Regions from separate parts of the Homo sapiens genome. Here region 1 is linked to region 2. Evidence: fine-mapped expression QTL. A gene starts in region 2. The other region holds a variant in brackets. All regions are shown on one strand. Distances are between the middles of the regions. Region 1 holds the start of TCTN2 (tectonic family member 2). Region 2 holds the start of ATP6V0A2 (ATPase H+ transporting V0 subunit a2).

Region 1 (11,912 bases), 39 kb after region 2:
TTCAAAAGAAAGCTGAATTATCGGCCAGGCGCGGTGGCTCACGCCTGTAATCCCAGCATTTTGGGAGGCCAAGGCAGGTGGATCATGAGGTCAGGAGATCGAGACCATTCTGGCTAACACGGTGAAACCCGGTCTCTATTAAAAATACAAAAAGTTAGCTGGGCGTGGTGGCAGGCGCCTGTAGTCCCAGCTACTTGGAAGGCTGAGACAGGAGAATGGTGTGAACCCGGGAGGCGGAGCTTGCAGTGAGCCGAGATCGTGCCACTATACTCCAACCTGGGCGACACAGTGAGACTCCGTGTCAAAAAAAAAAAAGCAAGCTGAATTATCTTGTTTTGTAAATCATTATTACCAAATATTTGACATTAAGGAATCCACGAAGTATATGAGGCCTGCATCTACCACTCCAACAAAAACCCAAACATAAGAAAACACGCCAGTTACAATGAACCAAAGAAGTCATAGTTGATCTAGAAGATAATCAATTGACTAAGAGTCACAAGTTAGTATATACATAATGTACTGATTTTAGGCTGGGCGGGGTGGCTCACACCTGTAAACCCAGCACTTTGGGAGGCCAGGGTGGGTGGATCACCTGAGGTCAGGAGTTCAAGACCAGCCTGGCCAACATAGTGAAACCCTGTCTCTAATAAAAATACAAAAAGTAGCCCAGGCTACAAAAAAGAAACAGATAAAATTAACTTAATATATTTTACTGAACCCAACGTATCCAAAATAATATCATTGCAACAGGCAATCAATGTAAAAATTATGAATGAGCTATTCCACATTCTTTGTTTCACATTAAGTCCTCAAAAACTGGTGGCTGTTTAACAGTTACAGCACATCTCAATTAAGACCCATCCCCTTTCAACTGTCCAGTGTCCAGACATGGTTCGTGGCTGTGGTACCCAACAGTGCAGGTGGGACAAATGTGGTCTGACCACGAGAGTATGGGGGGCTGGGTTATGCAGGGATGATACAGTGAGACACAACAGCTTCCCTGAGGGGCTCGCACTCTCAGAGGGAGGAGACAGGTAAAGAGATCATGTGACCATAAAGGGTAAACACTGAAATGGATCTGCCATGGGAACCCAGGGAGGGCACGTGGCTTAGGCTGGGCGTCAGGAAGACTTGCAGAGAGAGAGAATGCGCTGAGCCTGAAACACACGTAAGAGTTTGTACAGGTAGCCAGGCACAGTGGCTCAGGCCCGTAATCCCAGCACTTTGGGAGGCCAAGGCGGGGGAATCACCTGAGGTCAGGAGTTCGAGACCAGCCTGACCAACATGGAGAAACCCCATCTATACTTTAAAAAAAAAGAAAGAGTTTGTACAGGTAAGAGGGGCTACTGGAGAGCTGTAGGTGGAAGACAGAGGGGGTGGATGAATAGGGGGAACACTGTGGTGCAGGGGAGAAGGTGGCGGGCGTGAATGGGACAAGGCCAGAGAAAGCAGCTCAGGAGAAATGCTAAAAAGGTAAACATTGGCAGGGCCCGTTGTTTATAACTCTTCAGGATATTACAGGTTTCCGAACTTGTTTTCCTCTTTGAAGAGGAATATGTTACACGACATTTCAGCCTCCTAACTCAGAATCCAGTGACAGTAATGCTTTGGATTTCTCTCCAATCATTTATCAGATAAAAGTTTCATTCTGCTGAATTTTACTTTTGCATTTGGTACACGTTAGAAAACCATGCAGGAACTATTTGTTTAAACCCCACATAACAGTTAACTGTAATGACACAATAGCTGAAGTATCTAAAGAACAACTAACGATCTGTTCTATCCTGTAACATAGCAGAAGGTCAATGATACATCAATGGTATCCGGAACAAGGAGAAGGTCCACATCGCAGACCACGTTACACGGGTAAGGGTCTGACCCTCAGTGTTATCAAACCCATGTGACACAAGCAAGGCACTTTATTGATTTTTTTTTGAGACAGGGTCTCACTCTGCTGCCCAGGCTGAAGTGTGAAATGGCACAATCACAGCTCACTGCAGCCTCAACCTCCCAGGGCTCAAGTGATCCTCCCACCTCAGCCTCTCAAGTAGCTGGGACCACAGGTGTGCACCATCATGCTCAGGTAACGTTCATATTTTCTGTAAAGACAGGGTCTCACTATGTTGTCCATGCTGGTCTCAAACTCCTGGGCTCGAGTGATCCTCCCATCTTGGCCTCCCAAAGTGCTGGAATTACAGGCATAGTACATGAGCCACCACCCCCAGCCACGAGACACTTCAGAATAGGGTTTTACTATGTGTTATACAAATAGATGTTTGTGTGTTGATTTATGTTTTCTACATTGTTCGCTGGCTTCATTGTTACTGGGTATGACACATACCTCCTGTCTGTGCTTCCATTCTTTTTCTAGTTTTAATCGCTGGCTGGCTGAGTAAAAAATTTTTCATGCCTTCATGGGGTCAGAGCTGACAACTCAATCACTCATATACAAAGATGTTCAATTTTCTAAGTTTGGTATTCTAAAATATTAAATATTACCTAAATATACTGAAGCATATTTTCCTTTTTTTTTTTTTTTTTTTTTTTTTAGATGGAGTCTCGCTCTGTCACCCAGGCTGGAGTGCAGTGGTGTGACCTTGGCTCACTGCAAGCTCCACCTCCCGAGTTCACGCCATTCTCCTGCCTCAGCCTCTCGAGTAGCTGGGACTCCAGGCACCCGCCACCATACCCGGCTAATTTTTTGTATTTTTAGTAGAGACGGGGTTTCACCGTGTTAGCCAGAATGGTCTCGATCTCCTGACCTCGTGATCCGCCCACCTCAGCCTCCCAAAGTGCTGGGATTACAGGCGTGAGCCACCGCGCCCGGTCTTTTTTTAGAGACAAGGTCTTGCTCTGTCGACCAGGCTGGAGTACATGGAGCAATCCTGGCTCACTGCAGCCTCCACCTCCTGGGCTCAAGCGATCCCCCGACCTCAGCCTCCCTCATAGCTGGGGCTACAGGCACCGACTACCACGCACAGCTAATTGTAGTATTTGTTTGTAGAGACAGGGTTTTGCCATGTTGCCCAGGCTGGTCTTGAACTCCTAGGCTCAAGTGGCCCACTCACCTCAGCCTCTAAAAGTGTTGGGATTACAGGCATGAGCCACCACCTGGCCTCAAGCATATTTCTCAAAGGAAAAAAGTCAGTGCTTTGAATGGTACAGCTATCATGAATCCCTTCTGTTGTTTTGGGGGGATTTTTTTTTTCATCATTGAATACGGTTTTTTTGGCTTTGTTTTGAATTTTAAGCCATAGAAAAATTTAAAACTTTTAAGTGGGTAACACATTTGCATGGTTCCAAAAAATCAAAAGCATATTAAAAAATTCCTCACTGTCAGCCCTTTCCTGTTCCCACATCATCCTCCAACTTGGTAGCACATTATTAGCTTCTCCAACATCCTTCCAGAATTTCTTTATGCAAATGTTTTCATTTCTGCCTCCTTTATGCAAAAGATAGCACACTGTAGGCAGCCATCTGCACTTGCTTTTTTCACTTCATTCATCATGGAGGCCTTTCCATGCAAGTACACTGAGGGCACAGTAGTCTGCTGAAAGGAGCTGTCAAAACTTGTCTTATCATCCTAAACTTCCAGAAGCACCAGGAGGACCACAGTTAGGGATGTAATAAGGGAAGCGGCAGTAAAGGAGTCTCCAGGTAACAGACTTTTGCTACTAAAGTCTGGAACGCTTCTCCCTCCATGCCACGTGGCCATAAAGGCAAGAGATGTCAGAGTTCGCCACCGGAGACAGGGGACATGGCAGTAGCACTCATCACTGCAGAGCCCTCTACATCGGCACATCTAGTTGAAAGCTCTTTTGGTTTAAGAACACTAACATCATGTGAGACGGAGATGAACACAAAACCATTTTCTCATGTCCAAAGATTCATGTACACGGGCATAACGATCTTTGCTGTAGCATCAAAAGCTGGGAACAGACCAGGTGCAGTGGCTCCTGCCTGTAATCCCAGTACTTCAGGAAGCCATGGTGGGAGGATCACCTGGGCCCAGGAGTTCAAAACCAGCCTGGCTAACATAGTGAGACCCTGTCTCTACAAAAAATGTAAAAACTAGCCAGGTGTGGTGGTGCACGCCAGTAGCCCCAGCTACTATGGAGGCTGTGGCAGGAGGATCGCCTGAACCAGGAAGGTTGAGGCTGCAGCAAGCCAGGATCGTGCCCCTGCACTCTAGCTCCAGCCTGGGTAACAGAGTGAGACCGTGTCTCTAAAAAAAATGAAAATAAAAATAAATTTTAAAAAAAGCTGGAAATGATGTAAACTTCATCAGCCTCAAACTCCTACGCTCAAGCGATCCTCCCACCTCAGCCTCCCTAGTAGCTAGGGCTACAGGCAGGCACCATCATGCCCAGCTTTTTAAAATTTTTTATAGAGACAGTATCTGCTGTGTTGCCCAGGTTGGTCTCGAACTCCTGGGCTCAAGAAATTCCCCCGCCTTGGCCTCCCAAAGCACTTACAGTGTGGGAGCCACTGCGTCTGGCCACCCTTCCTTTTTTCTTCTTAAGATGCAGTCATGACAATCAATGCACGTGCCGAGCACAGTGGCTCACGCCTGTAATCCCAGCACTTTGGGAGGCCGAGGCAGGCGGATCACAAGGTCAGGAGATCAAGACCATCCCAGCCAACATGGTGAAACCCCATCTCTACTAAAAGTACAAAATTAGCTGGGCGTGGTAGCGTGAGCCTGTAGTCCCAGCTACTCGGGAGGCTGAGGCAGGAGAATCGCTTAAGCCCAGGAAGTGGAGGTTGCAGTGAGCCGAGATCACAACACTGCACTCCAGCCTGGTGACAGACTTAGACTCCATCTCAAAAAAAAAAGAGAGAGAATCAATGTACATAAACAAATTTCACCTTCTCCCAAAAAGGATTCAAGGTAGCTTATAAAGATGCAAACAGTAGAGAAAGATCAAATAAATGTTAAATAAAATAGTACAAAATGAAATTTCTTAAAAGAAAACTAAACAAAAGAAAAATAAGTTTAGAAAAGCAAGACAGACTCAAGTGAAGTATACTTTACAAATTGCATGGCATACACTTATAATCAAACAGGTAAGCTTGACACAAATTTTTCTTTTTTTGTTTTTGTTTTTGGTTTTTTTTGAGACAGGGTCCCACTCTGTCACCCTGGCTGGAACGCAGTGGCGCGATCACAGCTCATTTGTAGCATTAACCTCCCGGGCAGCTCATTTATAGCATCAACCTCCCGGGCTCAAGCAATCCTCCTACCTCTTCCTCCTAAGTAGCTGGGAACAACATGAAAGTTTTGACAGTCAAAGACTTCACTTGCCTGAGGCATTATGGGTCAGAGAAGAGTTGGCATAAATTTCCACTTGAATGAGTAGATGTGCTGAACAGGATGAATTATGAGATGCTGAAACCAGAAGGGTCTGGAGGATACAGGGGGACTCTGAGAAGGAATCTGTCTCATTGGAGGAACACCAGTCCAGACCTCTCTTCCACCTCACTGTCACTTCCAACACCTTCTGAAAGGAAAACATTGCTGTATTTTTAAAGTGACTCAAAACAGGGTCTATAAGAATACATAATGGAAAACACAATAAAAGTACACATCAGCCTCCGTTCATTTTATAAAAGGGAAATGTATACAGAGATGACACAGTTATCTTCAGTTCCCCCCCATAAACCTATGGTAACATGCAAGCCCTGATTCTTCTTCCTTAACATAAAAGCAAACAACTTCGGGATACTTAGAGAAAGCTAAACACAGATCTGATAAATAAACTCAGTTTATTGTACACCTTTTTAGTTTCTTTATCATCCTATCAGTGGAAGAGTAAATACACAAAAAAAGTCAATGAAAACAATCCTCAGTTTATCCCAGAATGACTTTAGACATGTACATGTTCACTCCTGGGGTACAAGCAGAGCTTGTCTTTCCTGTCCTTTTCTCTCCAGAATTGATGTTGCATATACTAGGTATCCAATAAACACTTATTAAATAGAAGATGCTTAATCTCTCCAGGTTTGAGTATCCTTACACATAAGCTCAGAGTTGGGCAAGATCAGTGGTTATGAAGCTTTTTTTTTTGAGACGGAGTCTCGCTCATCACCCAAGCTGGAGTGCAGTGGCGTGATCTCGGCTCACTGCAATCTCTGCCTCCCGGGTTCAAGTGATTCTCCTGCCTCAGCCTCCAAAGTAGCTGAGATTACAGGCACCCGCCATCACGCCCAGCTAATTTTTGTATTTTTAGTAGAGATGGGTTTCACCATGTTGGCCAGACTGGTCTTGAACTCCTGACCTCAGATGATCCGCCCTCCTCGGCCTCCCAAAGTGCTAGGATTACAGGCGTGAGCCACCGCGCCTGACCAGCTTTTTCTTTTTTTTTAAGAGACAGGGTCTTGCTCTGTTGCCCAGGCTGGATGAAGTGCAGTGGTGCGATCATAGCTCTCTGCAGCCCTGAACTCCTGGGCTCAAATAATCCTCTTGCCTCAGCTACCCCACCCCCCT[C/G]CAAGTATCTGGGACTGTAGGTGTACGCCACCCACCTAATTTTTTTTTTAATTGTTTTGTAGAGACGAGGTCTCGCTATGTTACAGGCTGGTCTGGAACTCCTGGGCTCAAGCAATCCTCCCGCCTCAATCTCCCAAAGCGCTATGAGTACAGGCGTGAGCCACGATGCCTGGCATAAAGCTTTTTTGAATCACTGACCCATTTGATGATCTAAAGGAAACTGGTGACCCTCTCATCAGAAAAATGCACATACACACAGAACTTTACATACAATTTCATAGAGTTCACAGACCCACTGAAATACATCCAAGGACTCCTAACCCCAGGGTAAGGAACCCGTGGGCTGGATAAGTGTCTACCAGATCCAACAGCCCACAATTTCATGATTGTTGAGAGCATGGAGAAAGCCATGCCTTGTTAAATAAAGAGAGCACTGCAGAAACCCTAGCTGGGGGCCTCTTCACAGGCTACAGAGAAGGTTTACTTCTGGCCTTACCGCACCGGGGATCACAGTCACGCTCCAGTCTTCCGTCTCATTGTTCAGCACTCCACACGTCGGAATTGGCAATATTCCTAAAGAAAGAAGACCAGCATGCAAAGGCAGCAAGGTCCAGCAGCTCAGGGGGTGCATTGAGTCAGACTGCCTAGGATGGACTCACATTACAGCCTAAGATTGGGCCCTTTACAAGCTGCTTGACACTGGGACAGTGACAACCTCTCTGAACTTGTTTCTTCCTTGGTCAAAGGGGATGAAAAGATATTACTGTTCTTACTAGGAAAATGGGATGATGCACGATGTTAGCTCAATGAATGCTAACCATTATTATTTCAGGCTTTCTTCGAACCTGTCCGTCTGTCCTCTTTGGCCTACAGCAGCCGCCCGATCCTTTTCTCCCCATGCGACTTTGCAGAGAACAGAGGCAGGGGGCCCCAAGGATGCCACCTCTCCAGGCTCCTTGGGAGGTCTGGATCCAGTCCAACCCCCACCCTCCCCAAAAGAGGGCCGGACTTTACCCGCCTCGTCCTGCAGCACTGCCAGGGACACGGTCACACCCTCGGTGTCTCCGACCAGGGACGCGCTGACCGCAGGGCCGGACATTCGGATAAAAGGAGGGATGAAAGCTAGGCGGGAAGGAAAGGGGACAAGGAGGGGTTAGCAGTGGAAGAATCACCGCCTAAGGTGTGTGTGGCGGCTTGCTTTGGCGTTGTCGACTCCCGAAGCTCCCGGGGGAGTCCAAGTCTGGCCCTTTTAACGCCCAGTCCCCTCAGCCCCGGCCCACCGAGGTCACTGCCGCGCCGTACACACCCAGGTCCCCCCACAGAAGCCTCAGGATGCCCTGCAGAAGGAAAAGCCTCAAAAGAAGAGCGGCCGGAGGCTGGAAGCCCATGCCTTAGACCTCGCGGGCCGGGCACAGCAGAACCGCGCCCTCATTAGAACCCAGGAAGGACTCAGACACGAAAACGCAGCAGCCACTGCCCCGCCGCCGCCATCTTGCAAGCGAACGCCCGGAGCTATGGCAACCACCAATCGGCGGCCGGCCAGGAGGAACGCCGCGCTGTGATTGGACCAGTGGCAAGAGCGGGCACCCCGGCCCCGCCCACAAGGCCTAGCATTTTTGCTGCTTGACTCTGGTGGGGAGAGTGAGGGCTGAAAAACTACCTATCCGGTGCTCCACTTAGTACCTGGGTGACGAAACAATCTGTGCACCCAACCCCCGTGACACGCAATTTACCTATATAGCAACCTGTACATGGACCCCTGGGCCTAAAAGTTGAAAACATCAAAATTAAAAAGGTCCTGAAAAGCAGGAGTGCGTGTCCGGCTCAAAAACTGGAGTTTTCCCCTACCCTGGAATTAATCCAACAATAGCCAAGAGCGATCCTATAGACACTGGCTTCTAAATAAAAAGGGTGGGACTTGCTCCTTAATAAACTTGATTTTTATACGGATTTGTTTTAGGGGTGAGTAGAAAAAGGGGATGGGGCTGCCGCGCTGTGTTTATTATCTTTACTATCGTTTATGATGTATTATTTATATTTTATATTTTTATAAAATAAATATATATTTACAAAATAGATATACTTTGTTTTATATATATATATCAGATATACATACTTGATATATATAAAATACATATAGGCCGGGTCTGGCGGCTCATGCCTGTAATCCCAGCAATTTGGGAGGCCGAGGCGGGCGGATCACAATGTCAGGAGTCTGAGACCAGCCTGATCAACATGGTGAAACCCCGTCTCTACTAAAAATACAAAAAATTAGCCAGGCGTGGTGGCAGGCGCCTATTATCCCAGCTACTCAGGAGGCTGAGGCAGGAGAATTGTATGAATCTGGGAGGCGGAGGTTGCAGTGAGCCGCGATTGCACCACTGCACTCAAACCTGGGCGACAGAGCCAGACTCCGTCTCAAAAATATATTTATTTATTTATTTATCTTATAAAATATATATGTATTTATATTTTATCTTATATATATTTATCTTTTATATAAGTATATATTTTGTAAATTTTATACTTATATGTTATAATTTTATAAAATTTATATTTTTATAATTCTTATCATTATCATTTATTATCACTATTGCTTTTATTATCATTCTCCTAGGTTTTTGAAGGATTTTCTCCCCTGCACAGAGCTCTCAGCACTCTGAAAGCAGATCCAATCACAGAACACACAAGAGGTTTTGCCCAGCAATAGGACAGATGTGAAAGAATCAAAATTCTGTCTGGAAAAAAATTGTTTTTTCTTATATCAGTAGCCTCAGAACATTTCAAATATTGTCACGGCTTGGGGACTGAGAGTGCAGGGTCTGAGGTCAGGCTGCCTGGCATGGGATTTCGCCTTCCCTCCACAGATATTCTCAGCTGTTAAGTGACTTTGGGCAAGTCAACCTCTCTAAGTTTCAGCTTCCTCATCTATAAAAAAGGGATGATAATAATCCTTCCTTGGGGATTGTGTGAGGATGAAATGAGGTAACATATCTAATGAGGTTAAACCAATGGCTGGCATACAGTAAGCACTCAGTTAATGATCAGTTACTTGTTAACTATCAGAGAGGTGGTGTATCCTTTAGCTGAGACAATCATGGTGTTCAGCATTGTGGCTGACTGACGGTAAATGCCAAGTAAATGTTTGCCATTATTAGTCTTTTTTTTTTTTCTTTTTGAGACAGGGTCTCACTCTGTCACCCAGGCTGGAATGGTGCAGTGGCACAATCATAGCTCACTGCATCCTCAAACTTCTGGGCTCAGCTGATCCTCCCACCTCAGCCTCCCAAGTAACTGGCAATACACCACCACACCCGGCTAATTTTTGTATTTTTTATAGAGACGGGGTTTCACCATGTGGCCCAGGCTGGTCTCAAACTCCTGGGCTCAAGTGATCCTCCTGCCTTGGCCTCTAAAAGTGCTGGGATTACAGGTATGGGCCACCGTACCCAGCCCCATTATTACTCTTAATGTTCAGTTATATATTCATTGATCAGCAAATCTAACATTGTGAAAGGATTCTGAAAGTTGAGGCTTTATAAGGGCCTGACACTGGGTGTTATCTTTTTCTTATACTCCCTGAAAAACTGTGGGTCACTACAGTTGTAACATGAGCATGAAACTTTTCCCGTGTACCTCAGCTCCTCTCTGGAAGACTGCAAAATGTTTACCTCTCTTGATATCTTGGAATGAAGCCTAGGAGAACGTTACTAAGAGGAAGCTGTCAAACACTTAAATATTTCTGTTATTCCCCATCTGTCTTTGGGGGGAATTAATCTGCAAATTAAGTTGGCAAGGCCAAGCGGTAAAGATTAAGAGATAAATCCTCCCAAAAGAAAACATTTCTGGGCCGGGCTTGGTGGCTTATGCCTGTAATCCCTGCACTTTGGGTGGCAAAGGCACATGGATCACTTGAGGCCAGGAGTTCAAGACCAACCTGGGCAACACAGAGAAACCCATCTCTACCCAAAAATACAAAAATTATCTGGGCGTGGTGGCGCATGCCCGTACTCCCAGCTACTCGGGAGGCTGAGGCAGGAGAATCGCTTGAACCCAGGGGTCGGATGTTGCAGTGAGCCGAGATCGCGCTACTGCACTCCAGCCTGGGCAACAGAGTGAGACTTCATCTCAAAAAAAAAGATAGAAAACACTTGAAGCTGGTGATCAGCAGCTTCCCGATAAGATCTCAGGAGTTGGGCAAGCAGGCTCATGCATACATAGTAAGAGGCAAGATGGCAGATTTTAACTGGTATATAACCTTCCTCTGGGAAGGCTCGACTGGTAAAGGAAAATGCCTCAAATGAGCATGCGCACAACTTCAGTAAACACACTGCACATGCGGCCCCTCCCAAGTGCTGGCAGGCCACTGACATGCAGACAGCCCACCCCAAGGAAAAATCAAGGGAGGGCACAAACCTCAGAACCATGCTAATGTATAGAAACCCCCAGTGAAGGGTCGGACGGGGCACTTGAATCTCTCAAGTCGCCCGCTTGGCCCTCTTCCAAGTGTACTTTACTTCCTTTCATTCCTGCTCTAAAACTTTTTAATAAACGTTTACCCCTGCTTTAAACTTTGCCTTGGTCTCTCACTCTGCCTTATGCTGCTTGGCCAAATTCTTTCCTCTGAGGAGGCAAGAATCGAGTTGCTGCAGACCTGTACAGACTCGTCACTGCTAACGGTGATCCAGGGAATTCTCCAAGATCGTACCCAAGATCACCAAGGTGGCACCTCTACAAATATGTAAACTATTCATATCTTGAGTAGTAGACTAAAAGGCAAACCTATCAAAAATAATAACTACAGCTTTTTAAGACATAGTATAATAAGATATAAATATTGTAGAAACAAAAAGTTAAAAATCAGAGGGATGAAGTTAGAGTATTAGTTTTCTCTGCTTGTTTTTGCAATCAGAGTTGTCATCAGTTTAAAATAATGGGTTATAAGATGGTATTTGCAAGCCTCATGCTAAACTCATATCAAAAAGCCTACAACAGATACACAAAAATATAAAGCAAGAAATTAAAACATACCACCAGAGAAAATCACTTTCATAAAAAGGAAGATGGAAGGAAGGGAGGAAGGGAAGATCAGAAAACAAATTTAAAAATGGCAGTAGTAAGTCCTTACTTATAAATAATAACATTGAATGTAAATGGACTAAACTCTCCAATCAAAAGACATAGAGTGGCTGAATAGATTTAAAAAAAAAAGACCTAATGATTAGCTGCCTATAAAAACTCTTCACCTATAAAGACACACATAGACTAAAAATAAAGGGATGGAAAAAGATATTCTAATGGAAACCAAAAAAGAGCAAAAGTAGCTATATACTTATATCAGATAAAATAGATTTTAAGACTAGGTGTGATGGCTCATGCCTGTAATCCCAACACTTTGGGAGGCCGAGGCAAGAGGAACCCA
Region 2 (8,000 bases):
TCACTTGAACCTGGGAGGCAGAGGTTGCAATGAGCTGAGATCGCGCCACTGCACTCCATCCTGGGCGACAGAATTGAGACTCCATCTCAAAAAAAAAAAAGAAAAAAAATTCATCTTTTAGAGGTACTTGTTGAAAAGTTAAATTATATATCTTGGATTTGCTTCAAAATGATCTAGTCTGGGAAGTGAGAAAAAACTAAGTTTACATTTATGGGTACATGGGGGTACACTGTACTCTTCCCTCTACTTATAATATAAAGTTTAAAACAATTTTAAAAAGTTGTAAAAGAATATTTAATAAAATTAGGAAGTTAGTCATGATTTCTGTGTAAAGCAGATTAGGATGTTTTCAGTGTGGTTCAAATTATATAAAAATACATATATATGGACATTTTTAAACATTATTAGAGAAATGCTGATTGTCCAGTATTAGCCAAAAAGTTAAAGTTAATTTCTAGGCGTTGGGATCATGCAAGGTATGTTACTATTCTTATGTTTTCCACATTTCTCACAATGGTCATCTATCACTTTCATACTTCAACAATTTACAGTATATCATTCATGTTGAAAGCCATTTAAGACACGAAATTTATCTTTATTCCATCCAGGATTTGTACTGGGCACTCTCAAGAAACAGTTAAGATACAACTTGACATGAAACTGCTCAACCTGGTAAGTGTCTACTCAGTGTCTGACTCAGTTCTTGTTCATTTTTTGGGGACTTTTTTTTTAAAAGAACCAGAAAAAAGGTAAAAATTCTCATTTCACTTCTGTTTGTCACCTTCTCATTCATTTCTGGAGGTCGAACTAAAAGTAACCACTTCCAAGTTACTAATGATTCAGACACAATCTAGTTCTATGGAACTTGTTGGAAAGGAAGTTCTGTGTCTAAAGCTGTCACAGGATACTACTTCTCAGCTTTCATTTTCTTCCTTCAATATCAAATAGTACTTAACTCTAAATGGGCATGATGTTTCTACAAATAGTAGAATCTTTATTTATAAAGAGGTAAATTTCTGTGGCAATAATACAAACATGGATTTCACATACATACACCACCATCACCAGCTTACATATATTAACTTTTTTTTGAGACGGAGTCTCGCTCTGTTGCCAGGCTGGAGTGCAGTGGCGCGATCTCAGCTCACTGCAACCTCTGCCTCCTGGGTTCAAGTGATTCTCCTGCCTCAGCCTTCTGAGAGTAGCTAGGACTACAGGCACACCCCGCCATGCCCAGCTAATTTTTGTATTTTTAGTAGAGACAGGGTTTCACCATGTTGGCCAGGATGGTCTCGAACTCTTGGCCTTGTGATCTGCCCGCCTTGGCCTCCGAAAGTGCTGGGATTACAGACGTGAACCACCGTGCCCAGACATATTAACTTTTTTTTTCTATTGTGTGGTTTCTTTTATAAATTTTGGGTTTTTTTTCCCTTTTAGGGCAGCACCCTAATTCAAGGCTAATGGAATAAGGTACATTTTAATGTAGATTCAATTCAAGGCACATTTAACCTAGTAAAACCGGCAGAGGAGATCTGGTGCTGTTTGTTTTGATATTCACAGCCATTGATACTCCCACTTCAGCTGAAGGACTAAAGAGGAAACCTGTTCTTAGACTGAGAACTGTAACAAAAGTGCGAACTTTCCCTTCAGGGAGTCCTCCCCATCAGCTGAATGACCTTTCTTTTCCAGGTACTTCCCACTAGCTGTCACCACGGAAGTCACCACCTGCCCCCCTTTCCCTTGCAAGGGTTACTAACAGTGATCCCATCTGGTCACCACAAAGTCAGTAGGAAACTCAGGCTGAAGACACACTGAAAACCTAGCACCACACAAGAGCTCATCGCAGCAACCTTAGTTTTACTTCCTTCTGGAAAAAGATGAACAGCACTTTCTTCTCCTTTCACTGACATTCAGTTGAAAAGGATCCCAGGTACACTCTATGACTGGAGGTAGTGGCGCTTATTGAAACTGGAACCTTCATAGTGATTAGTACGTTTGCTCAAACCTGTAAGACTGAAGTGTGATAAGTGTCTTGGCTTGAGTACTAACCGGAAGGAAAACATCTACCTGTTACAAATGTAGGAGCCTGCTGCACCTGCAGCTGTTGCCTGAATGTTTTGGGTGCTATTCACAGCTCAGCGCAGCATCCATCAGGTGAATGGGTACAACTGCAGAAGTGGCTCCAGGAACCAGGAACCGCCCTGCATCTTACCTGCACCCTCGCCTGTCACTCAGGAGTCTCTCCATGACTTTGCAACTGCCTTATGGGGCTGATCTGGTATTAGATATCTGATATCAATGGATATCAGATCTCGGGTAGGGCTGATCCCTTTTGAAATTAAGGACACCTTAGGAAGATTAAGGGAAACAGTCAGGAGATGAAAGTGGTGGCCAGGAAATAAAATGTTCGCCTGAGTGGATTTCAATTCAGTCAGTAAGTACTTGCTTCACGGTCTCCCTTCCACACCCTGTTCTTTGCCTTCTTAGCACTTATCACAGCTCATAATCAGAGTGTGTTTAATCTGTCTCCTCCCACACTGGAAGCTCCAGGAACACAGGGACTGTGTCTGCCTTGCTCACCACCGAGTCTCCAGCACCAAAAACAGTGCCTGAACATAGCGGGCAGTCAAGAAAAGCTTGTCTGTTCATTCAACAAATGCCTATCGATGCCAATGACTGCCAAGGACTGCGTTAAGGTACTTACTCTCAGAGGTTGACAGTCCTTGGTGGAGACAAACAATAAACAAGTAAATGGACAAACAAATGTTTATTATTACTTGTTGGGGAGACAGCTTCCACTCGACAAACAATGACTGAGTTCTTAAGTCCTTACACACAATGGTATGTACAGCATTAAGCATCAGTGACCAAAACACAAAAATCCCTCTCCTCAAGCAGATGACATCCAGCTCCTTCCCATTTCTGGCTCTGTCTGGGCTCCTCCTGTTCCCTCCAACAAGGACCCTCTCCCCAGATCTTCCCCACGGCTGGCTCCTTTCTATTTGGGTCTCAGCTGAAATATCACCTTCTCCGGGAGGCTTCCTCGACAATCCCTTCACACTCACCTCCCGCCCGAATCACCTTCACATCACCCCGTTTCTTCTTTATGGCAAACCTTTTCTGGTTGACCTATTTATTTGGTTAATGCGCCCCCCTAACCCCCGTAAAGTTCCAAAAGGACTCCAAGAGGCCTTTGTGGGATTTGTTCTCCCGCTGAGCTCGGTGCCCGGAGCTGATGAAGACCACACGGGCGATCCTAACTAACTGGGGCAGAGCAGCCGCCGACCACACAGACGGCCGGCGACCCTGGAGTCAGCCCCGCGCTCCGGGAAGCTTTGGCCGCTGAGCTGGGGTGTCATCTTCCCCGTCTGGACAATGGGGACGGGGCGCGCCCTTCCTCGGTGCTCCCCGCGGGAGGGCCCCAGCGATGCGCGGGATTGGGGGCGCCAGGAGAGCAGGTGCGGCCCGCGTCTCCCGGGCGACACTCACGTCTCGGAACTGGACCAGGCCTTTCTCGCCCAGGGCGCTGAGGCACTCGTAGGCCGTGCCCGACTGCAGGAAGAGCTGCGCCAGGCACATGGTCTCGCTCCGGAACAGGGACCCCATGGCGGGCCGACCCGCGCCCGGAGGGGCTCGATGGGCGGCGGCGGCTCCGAGCCGCGCGGGCCCGCACACTCAGCCGGTGCGGCCCGGGCCTCGAGCTCTTCCTGTGGCCTGGCCGCGGCCCCGCACTATGGGGCTCCAGACTGCAGCGGCCGCCCCCGGTTCTGCCACCGCGGCCGCCGCTCCAGCTGCCGCCACAGCAGTCCGCGAGGTCCCGCCCCCAAGCCACTGCCGGTTCCGGTTCCGCCCCCGCGTCCCGCCCCCCCCGCCGGCCGACCAATGGACGCCCGAGGTTGTCGCCGCACGACGTGGCGGCAGGGCCAACCAGCGCGAACCCGGCGGGTACGACCACTGCAGCTGGCGCTCCGCCGGACTGGACGCAGAGCTAAATCCCGCGCGGCTCCCCGGCTTTCCTGGAGGAGTCTCGCCGAGTGTGCACGCCGCGAAGCTCACCCGTTCCTAGTGCACGACCCTGTGCTGCTGCGTGTGTGTGTGTGTGTGTGTGTGAGAGAGAGAGAGAGAGAAACGGAATCTCACGCAGTCCCACAGGCTGGAGTGCAGTAGCGCGATCTCGGCTCACTGCAACCTCCGTCTCCCAGGTTCAAGCGATTCTCCAGCCTCAGACTCCCCAGTTGCTGTGACTACAGACGCGCGCCACCCGCGTCCAGCTAATTTTTTTGTATTTTTAATAGAGACGGGGTTTCACCATGTTGGCCAGGCTGGTCTCAAAACTCCAGAGCTCAGGTGATCCGCCTGCCTCGGCCTCCGCAGTGCTGGGATTACAGGCGTGAACCACTGCGCCCGGCCCTGCTGCTGGTTTTTTATGGATAGGGTTTCCCTCTGTGGCCCAGGGAGGAGTGCAGTAGCACGAGCTCGGCTCGCTGCAACCTTGACCTCCTGAGCTCAAGCGATCCTCCCACCTCAGCCTCTGGAGGAGCTGGGATTACAGACGCGCGCCATCACACCCGGCTAATTTGTTTTTAAAATGTTTATAGAGAAGGGGTTTCATCATGTTGGCCAGGCTGGTCTCGAACTCCTGAACTCAAGCAATCCTCCCGCCTTGGCCTCCCAAAGCGCTAGGATTACAGGCGTGATCCGCCGCCCGGAGGGATCCTAGGCTTCTTCGTGAAGTTGGAGTGTGCAGCCAGCATCCCAATCCAGTTTTCAAACATTTCCCACCGACCTCGCAAGACTCCTCCTGCTCAGTTGCAGTCTCCCCTTCCCGCCCGGCCTGGCCACCACAGGACAATTTTGTCTCGCTAAATTTGCCACCTCCAGGCTTGTCCTGTCGATGGAATCACACAGCACCCAGTGTGTGTTCCCCACACTGACCGGGAAGCAGTGGCCCCCCGCCCCAGGCCGCAACCTCACCGCTGTCCCAGTCGAGTCTCTGCTTACATATCCCCTTCCTTGAGACTGTCCCTGGAGTCACATCCTTGTTCTATTTCCTTCACTGCACCTGCCACCATCTGAAATTATCTTGTCTGTGTGTTAGTGCCAGTCTTCCCTGCTAGAATGGAAGCTCCACCAAGGTGGGGACATTGTTTCTGCCACTGTGGTATCTCCAAGCCCCAGCACATAGTAGCCACTCAATAAATAGTTCATGAATGCATACATAAATGTATAAACTTAAAAAAGTTAAAACCATAGACACTCCAGACCCCATTCTGCCAAACTGAGTTTTTTCCTTCTTTTAAGTACAAAAGGCGTCCTCACAAAGCCCACAAAATCAAGCTAAATTACCTGTCATTTGGAAGTTTTAAATTTATTTTCCATAAATACCTGAAATCCAAAGCTAGTTACACTAGGCTGGGTGCCCTGGCTCACTCCTGTAATCCCTGCACTTTGGGAGGCTGAGGCAGGTGGATCACTTGAGGTCAGGAGTTTGAGACCAGCCTGGCCAACATGGCAAAACCCCGTCTCTACTAAAAAAATATAAAAATTAGCTAGGCGTGGTGGTGGGCACCTGTAGTCCCAGCTACTCGGGAGGCTGAGGCAAGAGAATCGCTTGAACCTGGGAGGTGGAGCTTGCAGTGAGCTGAAATGGCATCCCTGGACTCTAGCCTGGGCAACAGAGTGACACTCTGTTTCAAAAGAAACAACAACAACAAAAAGATACAGTAAGAACTGTGAAGGTGAATTCAAAGGCTGAAGTTCAGACAATAATTGACTCAGACCCCAGCTCCGTCAGTCCAGTACTGACCCAGATTCCTGAGTCAGCCCTAGAGGGGTCGGGTGAAGGCCCAACACCACCACAGTACAGATGCTGAAATTCACGGTATTTCCATCATGCAGAAACTTAGGACCTCTGCAGTGACTAGCTCATCCCCCTATTTGAAAGTGGACTCAGGCCGGGCGCAGTGGCTCATGCCTGTAATCCCAGCACTTTGGGAGGCCGAGGCGGGTGGATCACGAGGTCAGGAGATCGAGACCATCCTGGCTAACACAGTGAAACTCCGTCTCTACTAAAAATACGAAAAATTAGCTGGGCATGGTGGTGGGTGCCTGTAGTCCCAGCTACTCAGGAGGCTGAGGCAGGAGAATGGCGTGAACTCGGGAGGCGGAGCTTGCAGTGAGCAAAGATCACGCCACTGCTCTCCAGCCTGGGCAATAGAGCAAGACTCCGTCTCAAAAAAAAAAAGAAAAAAGAAAATGGACTTAAGACTGGAGGAAAATTTGAAATTGCCCCTGGGCAGGAACTCTGCAGCGAAGATGAAACAGCACATTTTATGTGGTGCTGGGTATCAGCAGGCACTAGGAATTCGATCAAAAAGTATAAAAGGGAAAATAATTATTTTTCAAAATTAGGCTTAAATAACATAGAAAATCCATCTGAAACAACTAAGTTACCTGGCACACAAAGAAAACTTACAGGTGATGTGCCATGTGGCCACTGTAGGACCGTGGCTAAAAACATCTATTCCAGGGCTGGGCACAGCAGCTCATACCTATAATCCCAGCACTTTGGGAGGCTAAGGCAGGTAGATCACTTGAGCCTAAGAGTTCGAGACCAGCCTGGGTAACATAGGGAGACCCCCTTCTCTACAAAAAAAAAAAATACAAAAACTAGCCAGGTACAAGCCTGTGGTCCCAGCTACTTGGGAGGCTAAGGTGGGAGGATCACTTGAGCTCAGGAGGTCGAGGCTGCAGTGAGCCGTAATTGTGCCACTGCTCTCCAGCTCTCCAGCCTGGGTAACAGAGTAAGACCGAGTCTCAAAAAAAAAAAAAAAAAAAAAATCCATTCTCCCCACTGAGTGGGGTTGACTGTTCCCATGTGACGGCCCATGGGAGAAATTTGTCAAGACTCAGCTAGGAAAAACTGTCCTTCATTGATAACCAGTTAATTTTTAATGAATAGATTTCATAATTCCTGTATTAATGAATAGATTTCATAATTCCTATAGCTAATCATACTTGGGTTTTTGTAAACTGGGGTCTTGGTTGGGCATAGTGGCTCCTGCTGGTAATCCCAGCACTTTGGGAGGCTTAGGTGGTAGGATCGCTAAAGCCAGGAGTTTGAGACCAGGCTGGGCAACATAGCGAGACCCCCATCTACTAAAAAAAAAAAAAAAAAAAAAAAAAAAAAAAATAGCCAGGCGTGGTAGCTGTGTGCCACCTGTAGTCCCAGCTACTTGGGGGAGAATCGCTTGATCCCAGGTGTCTGAGTTTACAGTGAGCTATAATCGTGCCACTGCACTCCAGCCTGGGCAACAGAGGGAGAACCTGTCTCCAAAAAACAAATAAATAAATAATGAATTAGGGGCCTGCTTCTGCTAAAGGCAACCTCTGGCATGTATTTTAGGGCTTACATGTGCCCCTGGTTTTGTTTTACTTTTCTCTTATTATTTTCCTCCCGCAGCCCCCATATCTTTCCCCATCAGTGATTTTGTGTTTTTGTATTACATGCATTTTTAAGGATTTCTTAATCCTTTCTACGGAATATGGGAAACATCAATCAACACGAATGTATTAAAAACTAAAGAAAAGACTGATTCTCTCTGGTATAAATAAAACTCCTATGACTTTAACTAATTTGTGATAAGCTAAAATTTCTAACATTTTTGAGTTCTTCTCATGCATTTTACTCAGTTCAGGCCAGCGATGAGAATATTCATTCTGCATTGGATAGCTACATATATGAATTAAAGTCACAGGGCACTTAATAAAAATTTTCTACAAAAATAAGACATTTCATTTATTAAAATTTTATAGAGAAGCATACAAGACTACAACAAATCACTGAAGTCAAGGTCTAAAGTCTTTGAGAAGTCAGATGGACCGGACGCAGTGGCTCACGTCTGTGATCCCAGCACTTTGGGAGGCCGAGGTGGGCAGATCATCTGAGCTCAGGAGTTACAGACCACCCTGGGCAACAAGGCGAAACCCCGTCTTTACCA

What was found. PIP is the estimated chance that this variant, and not a neighbour inherited with it, causes the effect.
Region 1: its variant is fine-mapped to the expression of ATP6V0A2 in whole blood (INTERVAL, PIP 0.94).

The regions. Positions count from the first base shown.
Region 1 is chr12:123,667,207-123,679,118 of GRCh38, reverse strand. It overlaps TCTN2 (tectonic family member 2), which reads right to left and starts at 8,006. Exons shown (of 18, transcript NM_024809.5): 1 at 7,797-8,006; 2 at 7,505-7,612; 3 at 6,987-7,063; 4 at 5,309-5,504. The coding sequence starts at 7,878. The variant C/G (reference allele first, on the strand shown) is at 6,491.
Region 2 is chr12:123,708,172-123,716,171 of GRCh38, reverse strand. It overlaps ATP6V0A2 (ATPase H+ transporting V0 subunit a2), which reads right to left and starts at 3,819. Exons shown (of 20, transcript NM_012463.4): 1 at 3,490-3,819. The coding sequence starts at 3,606. TCTN2 (tectonic family member 2) reads right to left here. Exons shown (of 18, transcript NM_024809.5): 18 at 7,773-8,000. LOC105370042 (a long non-coding RNA gene) reads left to right here. Exons shown (of 3, transcript XR_945477.4): 2 at 609-672; 3 at 1,438-3,406. RefSeq lists a silencer at 3,445-3,994.